Linked DNA regions of Homo sapiens: regions 1 and 3 are each reported to be linked to region 2. The links are microRNA targets in miRTarBase. Many come from high-throughput screens and were not tested one by one. Region 2 holds a microRNA gene; each other region holds the end of a gene's coding sequence.
What was found. Region 2 holds the annotated microRNA hsa-miR-125b-5p (UCCCUGAGACCCUAACUUGUGA, at 2,431-2,452, shown strand). A microRNA usually pairs through its seed, bases 2 to 8, with sites in the 3' UTR of a target mRNA and lowers its output. Matches are read on the target gene's strand: a 7mer-m8 pairs with bases 2 to 8, a 7mer-A1 pairs with bases 2 to 7 and ends in A, and an 8mer does both.

Region 1: the mRNA of FAM174B is a reported target of hsa-miR-125b-5p. Seed matches in the 3' UTR shown: 7mer-A1 at 1,030-1,036.
Region 3: miRTarBase lists RAB4A as a target of hsa-miR-125b-5p. The part of its 3' UTR that is shown has no 7-base or 8-base seed match.

What each region holds. Positions count from the first base shown.
Region 1 is chr15:92,616,812-92,619,811 of GRCh38, reverse strand. It overlaps FAM174B (family with sequence similarity 174 member B), which reads left to right. Exons shown (of 3, transcript NM_207446.3): 3 at 353-2,364. The coding sequence ends at 356. Among named protein-coding and RNA genes, the nearest start is that of FAM174B, 37 kb to the left of the region's middle.
Region 2 is chr11:122,097,946-122,102,260 of GRCh38, reverse strand. It overlaps MIR125B1 (microRNA 125b-1), which reads left to right and starts at 2,417; the gene lies at 2,417-2,504. All of the region lies in intron 4 of MIR100HG (mir-100-let-7a-2-mir-125b-1 cluster host gene), which reads left to right.
Region 3 is chr1:229,302,634-229,305,633 of GRCh38, forward strand. RAB4A (RAB4A, member RAS oncogene family) reads left to right here. Exons shown (of 8, transcript NM_004578.4): 7 at 229-356; 8 at 1,173-3,000. The coding sequence ends at 344. Among named protein-coding and RNA genes, the nearest start is that of RAB4A-AS1, 33 kb to the left of the region's middle.

The DNA.
Region 1 (3,000 bases), not on the chromosome of region 2:
GAGTTTACAATATTTCCTCTCTGGACTGTCACAGAAGAAGTTTTCCAACCCCTAGTGTAAACACCCTGGAAGTGCTGGCAAGGAGAGGGATATAAGGAGAAAGAGGTTGTGTTCTAGGGAGTCTGTGTGGGGAGCTGGGGGAGGGATCCTTAGTTGGGAACTGTGGGGAGGGAGGGGGTTTGCTGGAAGAGTGGATTGCGCCTTCCAGACAGCACGCTCAAAGGTCCTGTGGCTGGGGACTGTGGCCTTTTCACTGGCTGAGAGGGTGAGGGATAGAGATGTTCAGGAGGGGTCAGAATGGGTGCGAGGCTCTGCCAGAAGGGGCTTACTCTTGTCCTTCCCTTTCTTTTAGGTAAAACCTGTTTCCCAGCCTGGTGGCATCCTGTGGAAAGTTGGTCAGCTGCAACCTGGGGTGTGAAGGACTGGACCTGGAAGCCCTCTTGCGTCGGAGGTGTTGAAACCAAAACGAACGTTATGTATAAAACCCCAGCTCCATCGTGCGTGTCAGGCATCTGCTCAGACTGTCACTGGCAAGCTCGTTTCCACGTCACCACAATGGAGTTGCTTCTGCCACCCTTTGGGCATCCCTTTAAAGTGCCCCCTACTTCTACTCCCCATGTAAGAGGCTTTGTGCCTTGCTAAGGAGCAAAGGGTAGAAACATGTTGATTTTAAAGAAGTTTTTTTAAGACAATTGTTGACAATAGTAAAAGAGATCAGGAGGATCAAGAATCTAAAACAAGCCTGAAGGATGTCCAACTGTGTATTTAGAATTTCCGACATTCTTCTCTACTGGATCTACACATTGGACCCCATCTGATCCTTTGCTGCTTTTTTGGCTTGGTCAGGTCCTGGCCTCATTTTGGCGTTACCTGTGTCAGAGTTCAAGGTGGATGTGCTTAGAGCTGGTCAGCCCCTTCCAGACCTGGACACGTCTGTGGCTCCTTTTCTTTCTTCCTTTTTTTTTTTTTTTAAAAAAAAAAAAGGTTCAGCAGAAATCAGCGTGGCTAGTTCACAAAGAATTTCCAGTATCAGGGAAAAACTGTGCGTGTGTGTGTGTGTGTGTGTGCACGTGTGTGCGTGTGCACGTGTGTGATACCTATAAAACAGTTTCTCCTTCTCTGAAGGGAAAGGAAAGTGCTAGGCAGCCTGTGATTAGCAACATTCTTTGTGCTTTTTTGTTGTTCCTCTGCTCTGTCACAGTTCTACGTTGTTTGCCTTAGAAATGTAATTTTTAAAAACCATTTTAAAAATGAACGGTGATTTGGCTGGCTGGAAAAAATCACACTGTCAGGGGACTATATTTGAAGTCAGTCTAGACGGGGCTGGACTAGGAACCCACCTGGACCCAGGAGACCCCACAGGACCCAGGAGGTCCCTGCCGGAAGGCAGAGGTTCAGGTGAGAGTGGCTCACCTCTGAGCTGGTGAAGTGAGGACTTGCCTGTGACATGACCCAGGGATCTGCTGCTGGCTTCTGGAGACAGGGCCTTGGGCTGACTTCTCAGGTTGATTGAGGCCTCCTGACTAGCGGTGTTCCCAGGCTAGAGGTGATTGGCTGCAACAAAGATGCTTCTATTAGTCTATTAGCAGTGCCTTCGGGACCCTGGGATTTTGCTCTCTCTAGAAAGGTGTTTTTTATTTTTTTATTTTTTATCTCCCCCTTTTTTCCTGGCTTTGCTCCAGGGTTTGTGTATTTGCCTGTTTATTGTCCTGCTCTTTTTTTTTTTGGATGAAAACTCCAGCCTTTCCTGACTCACCTCCATCTTCGGTTCTTCAGTTTTCTGAGAAGAGTTGGGATATGTGGGAAGGGGCATGGGAGCTCGGCAGCCTCCGCCTGCCAGGAAGGCAGTTTCGCCTCTGCAGGAAAGAGCAGAGCCCGTGGGAAGCCCTGGGTGAGGGTGGCGCAGCCGGCCCAGCACGCATGGTATTGCCAGCCACGGGGGGCCTGCGTGTAGTCTCTGCTCCCTGCATTTCACCTTCTTTGTTGACTTTCCTTCTCTGTTTTCCCCCATCTGTTTGCCAGAGGGGTGGGACTGGCAACAGAACAGCCGTGGCTGCTTTATCTCTCCTCTCCACGGTGTACTCAGGCCTGAGTGGTGACTCACGGGAGCCTGGCCACCTCGCAGCTGTTCGCCCCCTCAACCTTTGAACTGGAACTGCTGGCTCACACAGGGTTTTCGACAACTGCAGCTGAATCTCATGGAAAAGCTGGATTCCTCTGCCTTACGCAGAAACACCCGGGCTCCATCTGCCAGGTGCTTGCCACTGGTCCTGGCAGAAATGGCGGCTGCTGAAAGTGACCTTCCAAATCCTTGGTGGCACTTCAGCGCCACAGGCTCTCCAATAAAAACCCTTTACACACAAACCATGAGTACCTTGGGCTTGGATGTTTTCTGTGGTGCCGGCCAGCGGGGCACCTTTTGTGAAGACAGAGGTGGGTGGGCCCAAGGCTGAGGAGGAGGGCGGGGATGGGAGCTGGGCTGGAGGTGTTTGGATCCTGGTGATTAGAGAAAAGCTTGGAAATGAAAAAGGCTTGGTGGTGGAGGGGCATGCATGCTGTTTTTACGTCTACATATACAATTGGAGGCTCACTCGCTCATTTCCTGGAAGCTTGCTCCTTGGCTAGGAAATACTGAGGCCTAACTGTTTCCAGAGAATCTTGGGGCATCTCCAGAGAAGATAGAATCAATCACATAAAAAACTGCTGGCTTGTAACTGCCTCATACCTGGCTTGCTTTACTCTATGAGTAAGCATGGGATGCATCTGGGCCGGGTTCACAGCGAGCTGAGAAAAAGCCGGGGGAAAAGCCCATTTGCTGCCGTCCAGCTGGTTCCCTTGGAGGTCACCAAGGAGCTGGGGGTGTGGTCTGTGTCCCTCCTCCCTGAGGAGCTACTCCTGTGCTCCGTCTTCTCTACCACTGTAGCAGTGACTAAGGTTCTCCAGGGTAGCTCTTTCTCCAAACAGCTGCGCTGGAAGCCAGCCCTAGAGAGTGGGTTTCCC
Region 2 (4,315 bases):
CCCCCTGACCTGCTGATGTATTTTTGGCCTCATTAGTAGTCAGGGAGATGCCTTAGTGCATCCAGCACTGCAAGTCAGGGATGAGACACACTACAACAGGAGAGGGAGCAAGCGCGAGAGGATATTAGAAGAGAGGCTTGTCTCCAAGATATGGAAGGAAGTGAGAAATGACAGGGCTGCAAGCTTTGTATGTAGGAGCCCGGCAGGGCGGGGGAGCGGCGAGGAGAGCCAAGTGGATTCTCAGAAAAGGGGGGAAGCCATCGAAGAGCTAAAGGTGATTAGAGGGGGATATTGATTTCTTATTCTGCCAGAGATTTAAGCAGGCATGCGAGGAATCTGCACCATGGTTGGCAAAAAGAGACCCGTTGCCTCCTGTAACCAGACACTCAGGCTTTCCAGGAGCCCAGGGAGCAAGCCGAGAAGAAAGGGGGCAGTGTGGTCTAGGAAAATTCAACTTGTCGCTGATTTGTGCCTGATGCCTGCTGTCCGTCAGCAGCCTCCCTTACAATCTTTTTTTCTCTCTCTCCTTTTTTTTTCCTTGCCTTCTCCTTCTTCACTGAAGCCTAGGGGAGCCAGTAAAGATTAAATGTGCTTCTCAAAGGCAGCCACTTCATGCTGCTATGTCGAAAGGGCCATTATTATTATTATATTTTAATGGTAAAAGAGAAAAGGAGAGAGGTTGAGCGAGCGAGAGAGAAGCTAGGTGTGATGATGACAGACTAGCTTTTCTGAGAGGAAAAGGAAAAGGGAAGGGAGAGAAAAAGGAGAGCCTCTGAGCTCAACGGAGGATTGTGCCTGAGAAGAACCCACAGAGGTGAGAAAAAAGTTGTCTTGAAGGTGGGGGTGGGGGGGCTGCTAAACAGACACTGTACAGAGGGAGAAGAGACATAATTTAGCTGTGTTGCTAGTATGATTCCATTTTTAAAGGAGGGGAGGGGGAGAGTCTAGAGCTCTAACTGTTTTTAGTTGCATATGGAAATATCTAAAAAAATATTTAGCATTTTTACTAAGTGCGTTGAGGCCTCTCCAGTGTCCTCCTGGCTGTGGCTGCTTTGTCATTCTCTTTGACTAGCCAGCCATCTACCTTGCTCAGGCCTGGAATAAAAGAAGAACAAGAAGAAGAAAGAAATGAAATGAAAAACAGAAAGAAAAAGGAGAAGAAACATTTGTAAAAGGGTCATCTTCCCATCTGCCTCCCCTCCTTTTCCTTTCATTTTTGGTGGCGGCACAGGAAAGCCCCACTTCCAGTCTGATGAGGAAAGCGACAATCTATCAGGTACAGAACCAGGGGCTGTCTGCGAAGATGGAGGGGAATTATGCTTCGGATTCCTCTGAAATATTGGCCAAAGGCTTCAAAGAATCCGCAGCGGGAGGTGCGGGGGGAATGTCTCTCCCCAGCCCGCACCCAGCCCTTCCCACTTCGTGTCTACCAAATGACAGCCTGGTGCTCGCTCTTGGTGATTTGGCCTTGACTTCAGCCAAGCAGCTGATGCAGACGAAGCCTCCGTTTGCAGGACTGGCAAAGTGCACGCTAAAGAAAGAAGGAAGAAATTTTTCAAAAAGCAGCTCTGGGGAGGTTTCATACTCCCCCCCCCCCCCCGCCTTTTTTTAATTTTTAAGTGAATATTTTCCAAATTTGATCAGTTCCAGCCCCTCCCTCCACTCCCACCCAACTGCCCTTTTTTCTCTCGTCAAAGCATAAGCTACAGAGTTACAGTCTCGAGATTTGGTGTATCGCTTCCTGCCCCCGCCTCCCCTCCCCGCCCCCGTTCTCCGTCCTCTATTGAAACACCTCGCCCAGCCTAGCGCACTGAGAGCTCTCATTTTCCCCCCTTGCTCGGGATGGTGCCACAGGAGGCTGTGCGGGCCCCGCTCCGCTTCGAATGGGTGAGTTCAGAACGCTATTCGTCTTTACACTTCTATAGCCTCCGAATCCTACTTCTTGGTCTTCTCCTTTGAAAACCCGATTTCTATGATTTTTGCATGCGGCATACTTGCCCTGGGGGAAAGAGATGCCTCCTATTTTCTCTTCAGTCATTTGTGCTAGTCGTAAATTAAAGCTTTGAAAAGACACTAAATCCTTATTGTAGACTATGGTTTTAAAAACTTGGGCATTTCTGAGTCTGTGCATATTATTTTCCGTTTTAGTGAACTATTTTGCCCAAATCTTGAAAGAGTTTTCTCTGATGTACTCGTGATCGTATGTGTATGTGCGTGATTGTATATGCGCCCCCAGATACTGCGTATGTGTGTATATATGTATTAGGCTTAAACGGAATCTCAATTTTGTGAAGGAAAGGAGCTTAGAGAAGAAATACCATACCACCTGTTTGTTGCATCTTAGTTATGAACCTCGAACAGAAATTGCCTGTCATTCTTGTTTTGCTTTGCTTTGTCTCAAGAAAGAAAACATTGTTGCGCTCCTCTCAGTCCCTGAGACCCTAACTTGTGATGTTTACCGTTTAAATCCACGGGTTAGGCTCTTGGGAGCTGCGAGTCGTGCTTTTGCATCCTGGAAATTTGGTGGAATTTTATTCTTTAAAGCAAAAACAAAAGAAAAGAAAGTTTGTCTGAGGTGATTGAGTATACCTCTGAGGTTTTCATTGTTAGATGGGATCAGGTGACCAGAGAGTGGCAGCTCCTGGATTTCTGTTAAAGTAGGTATATATTTTGCTTTAATAGCGTGTTGGCTGCTATGTGTATGTATGCATGTTATTGATGCCTGAGGCTTGTGGAACTCATCTGCCTGGTCTATTCCTTGAGAGCAACACGCAGTAGTATACGAGCGTAACAAGAACAGCTCAGTACCTGGTGCTTGACCTCAGAACATCTCAGCTGAAGTCCCAGCATGCCCCATGTCTCCAACTTTCAAACTCCACAGTTAATCTTAAAATTGTGCCCAATTAAAATGGGCATGTGAATATATTATATATTCAGTGTCCACACATGTGTATCATGGATGGCTAGACAGTGAACATACAGACGCAGATAAAGGCAAACTAATAGTTTGGAGTAAAATATTAATAGGTTAAAATTCTATTCTTGCAATTCCACACAAAGGATGGAAGTTATGGTATTAATAAAAATTAAGTTTGTATGACTTTGCAAGATTTTTTAAAAATAAAAGGAGGGATACCACCTCCTTGCTTGGTATCTTTTACAAAATGTTATACTTTATGGATATAAAGGTGATAAAGATTGGAAATAAATCTTCTAAATATGTAAAATGAAAGCAACAGCAACAGCAAACACAATTATCGTATTCTTTGGGAGTAACAAATACTGGTTTTCATTTTAAAACTAAGGAAAATTTTATCAGTACTTAAATTCAATCCAAAAAAGGTTTTATAACACCCAAACTGTACATTTAAAATTATCCTTTCTTAAGGTAATGGCTAGCATTACCTAGTTTGTAGTTTTCTTGAGCTGTAACTTTTTATAACTGAATCATTTCAGTGATTTAGGGCTGTCTCGTAGTTGGGGAAGAGAAACAGTAACTTACCTTTCCTTTGTTGTGAAAAATTCTAGTATAAAATATCATTTAAACAATTTTCGTATTATTGGGCCAACATTTCTCTTCTATGTTTGAAAAACACCTAAATCAACCCCAATCCAAATGCTTTCTTCTTCTAAAGACTTTATATTGGTTGTAGCCTTGTTTTATACATGTAATTGAAGGTTAGGGAAACTGTTCTTTGCCTGTTATTGTTTTTTATTTTAAGTGTTTATTGCAATTTTAGTCATTAATGCCAAATTGCAATCAAGAAACCATTTTGTATCAGAAAATTGAACTGAGAATATGAACTATGCAACGATTGCACCACGTCTTTTGTTGAAACCTCTTGTGTAGTAATATTAGAATATTACTTTCCAGTCTTTGATAGTCCGAATGTGCTTCAAAAAAAATAGTTATTTGATTGTCGAGTCATCGTTAGTTTATATTCAATGGTTTAATGACTTCCCCTACCTTAGCTGATGTGTATGCATAGGTATTTGGAAATTATAGCAAGGCATCTATTTAACTTACGAATCTATATTACCACATTATTCATATCCAACATTTGTAAAACAGTTGGTGCTTTTTGAAGTTAAAATATATCTGCAGTTTACTCTATGAAAATGTATACATGGATCAATAAAAACATGCCAGGTAAAATTCTTCCGTGATTTTCAGTGATAACAGGGTAGTAATTTAATACAAGTGTTTTAATTTGTATTTCAAGGCACTCTCAGGTTTTTACATGTTTTCAAGTGGATTGCTCATGTTCCGAGGTTGCTATCATACAACTGATCACCCAGGCATTTAAAAGTGCAT
Region 3 (3,000 bases), not on the chromosome of region 2:
TCCTGTCCTCAGCCATCTAGAACTCCTCCGAATCAGCCGTTCCTTATGTATCCTGCTAGAGATGTTTTGTGCCGGTGCAAGCAAACATATATATAGTTTTTTCCCTTTATTCAGAATGGTGGGATATATACACAGTGTTCTGTACTTTGCTTTTTTTTTTTTTAATCTATTTTTGGAATCAAAGAAACATAAAAGCCTTTTTTAAAAGAAGACTTGCTTGGTCCTTAGGTGAGCTGGACCCAGAAAGAATGGGCTCAGGTATTCAGTACGGAGATGCTGCCTTGAGACAGCTGAGGTCACCGCGGCGCGCACAGGCCCCGAACGCTCAGGAGTGTGGTTGTTAGGAGAGCACACAGGTGGGTTTGGACACCTCCCTGCCCTGAGTTCCTGGCAAGCTCAAGTGCAGAGGCCTGTTAAAGCTTTGGGAAGCTGCAGTATGAAAAAGAGGGGATCCCAGCCGGGTGCAGTGGCTCTAATTCCAGCACTTTGGGAGGCTGAGGTGGGCCAGTTGCTTTAGTTCAGGAGTTCGAGACCAGCCTAGGCATCATGGTGAAACATCATCTCTACAAAATACAAAAAATTAGCCAGGCGTGGTGGCGTGCACCTGTAGTCCCAGCTACTCATGAAACTTAGGAGAATTGCTTGAGCCTGGGAGGCGGAGGTTGCAGTAAGCCAAGATCATACCACTGCACTCCAGCCTGGGCGATAAAGTGAGAACTGTCTCAGAAAAAAAAAAAAGAGAAGGAGAAGAACCCATAAGTTAAAGTTGGATGTTCTAACTGAAAGAATTTATACTCTATAGGAAATTCTTATGCTCTTGTTCAGAAAGAAAGGAAGGGCAGGTGGTGGTTGATGGGAAGGGTGAGATATCCTGATTCCTTATGTCAGTGAGGAGCCCTTCCTGGATTGATTGAGGTCTAAATGAATGTGCCTTTTGCTAAAACAGGAGGCCTATTTATAAAATTGACAAATGTCTCCCTTTAACTTTTTAAAGCTTCTTCTTTTTTCCCATTTACCACAGTGGACGTTTTATTTATAGTCGACATCATGTAGTAGGCACAGGCAAGTGTTAAAAGACAAGATATTCACGAATTCTCTTTTAGGCTTTAAGCTGTATTTACTTTTGCATTTATAGTTATGCAGATTTTGAAATTGTTCTTAATATTTTTTAGGTGTTCATACAGTGGCATTTGGGACACAATCGTTGGAACCTGAAGAATCTGAAGTTTTTTTTACCACCATCTTTTTCTACTCTGTATGGAAGTAGATCTTTATGGGGAAAAGAGAATTTGGGGTGTTCTGCAAGCCAGTCAAAGTGGCACAGCAAATCATATAAATCGAATTAAATGGACAACACCGTTAGATGTGTATGTAAAAATTTTCTGTTTCATATTTTTCCTTTCACTTTCGGTTTAAAACATGCTATATGTACTGTATGTCCTGTAGCCCAGTGCGGCTCCACAGCATGGAATCTGATGTATGATATGATAGAATGTGGCACTAAATGCAGTTTCAGATTTTATTTTTTTTAATCATATGAACTAAAATTGTCAATTGTGAGGTGTGCTTTTCTCATCATGTTGGTTATATTGCACAATTGGTTATATTTATGACCTGATATTCAAAGACTCTGGCATTGATAGCCAGTGTGTTTTCTTATTTAACTCCGTTTACTACATTCTACATGGTGTTTACGTGATCCACACTTGAAATACTAGATCAGTAGACATTCACTAATATACCAAAATAAAATGAAAAATTGAGTTTTTCCGTGAACTTTATACTGTCCAGCTCTGTTGATTTTAAAGCCTCTTCATCCAGGTCAGTTCAGGAAGTATATCTGGAGTACCTGCTCTGTTTTTGGCTGTGAGACTAGCACTAAGGATTCTGGTACCTTTACCCAAACCTACTGGGCTACTAATACTTCTCTCAGCAGTTGATCAAATACAATAGACCATGTAAGCTGGGGCCGCTCATCCACTTCCAGTTTGCTGGTCTCCCTGCTAGAAAACACATTGTACTGTGCTTTTTCTGGAATTCAGTATAATGGCATCACTGCCTGTTTTTCACATCTTTTGTTTCCTGTTCATTTTAAGGAAACCTACTAAATCCAGTTAATATTAAATGGACACCACTCATTAAGAAATTTCTTTATGGCTTCTGCTGAATACTTAAATGCCTTACTACAGTTATCCAGTTGACATGTTTTTAATTCATATAAGGTATATTGGGTATATTGAAGTATATATTGTATTACAAAGACTTGTTCTTGTATTTTAAAATGTCAGTGCAAAAAATATATGGTGGAACCTTTCTTTAAAGTTGAAATGCAGTATTATTTAAATCTGAAAGGTTAAAAAGCTTTCTTCACCTTATATATGTTCTTCCACTGTGACTTTTTAGTTGAAGACTAGTAAATTAACTTTTAGTTAGAAGATGCCTACTGCTTTTGTTGTTTATTTTAATCAGCAGAGCACAGAGACACATAAAAACTCTGGGAAATGACTAGGATAAAAATATCAGTATGTATCTGTTTTAGATATTTTGAGTTTTGCTTTTTTTATGCCTTGAATATTTTATTTCAAAAAGTATCTGAAGCAAATTCTCAGACTGAACTACTTCTTAGACCTCACTGTAAGAATATTTTATTCAATGTCTCATTTATGATAGATTTGCAAGCTGCTCATTTTTGAACAGCTTTTTGCATGGGATAGGAGCATGTCTATTCTAACACATCAGCTTATTCAAAAGCAAGAATTTTAAAAATAAGATAAATGTAAAGTTGTTTTATAAACGATCCTGTTAATTAAACCACAGACACCATATATCCTTCTGCATCCTTTGGCCAATAAAAGTTGCTGGAGAACCAAACCATGGTGGTTCTTAATCAGGCTTTGCCTTTAGGGAGAATGAGGAGGAGAGATAATTGGGTATTGTTCAGGCTAGTAATAAATGTCATGTTTCTATTTCCCGCAACTCATTAAGTTTTCAGGAAGCTCT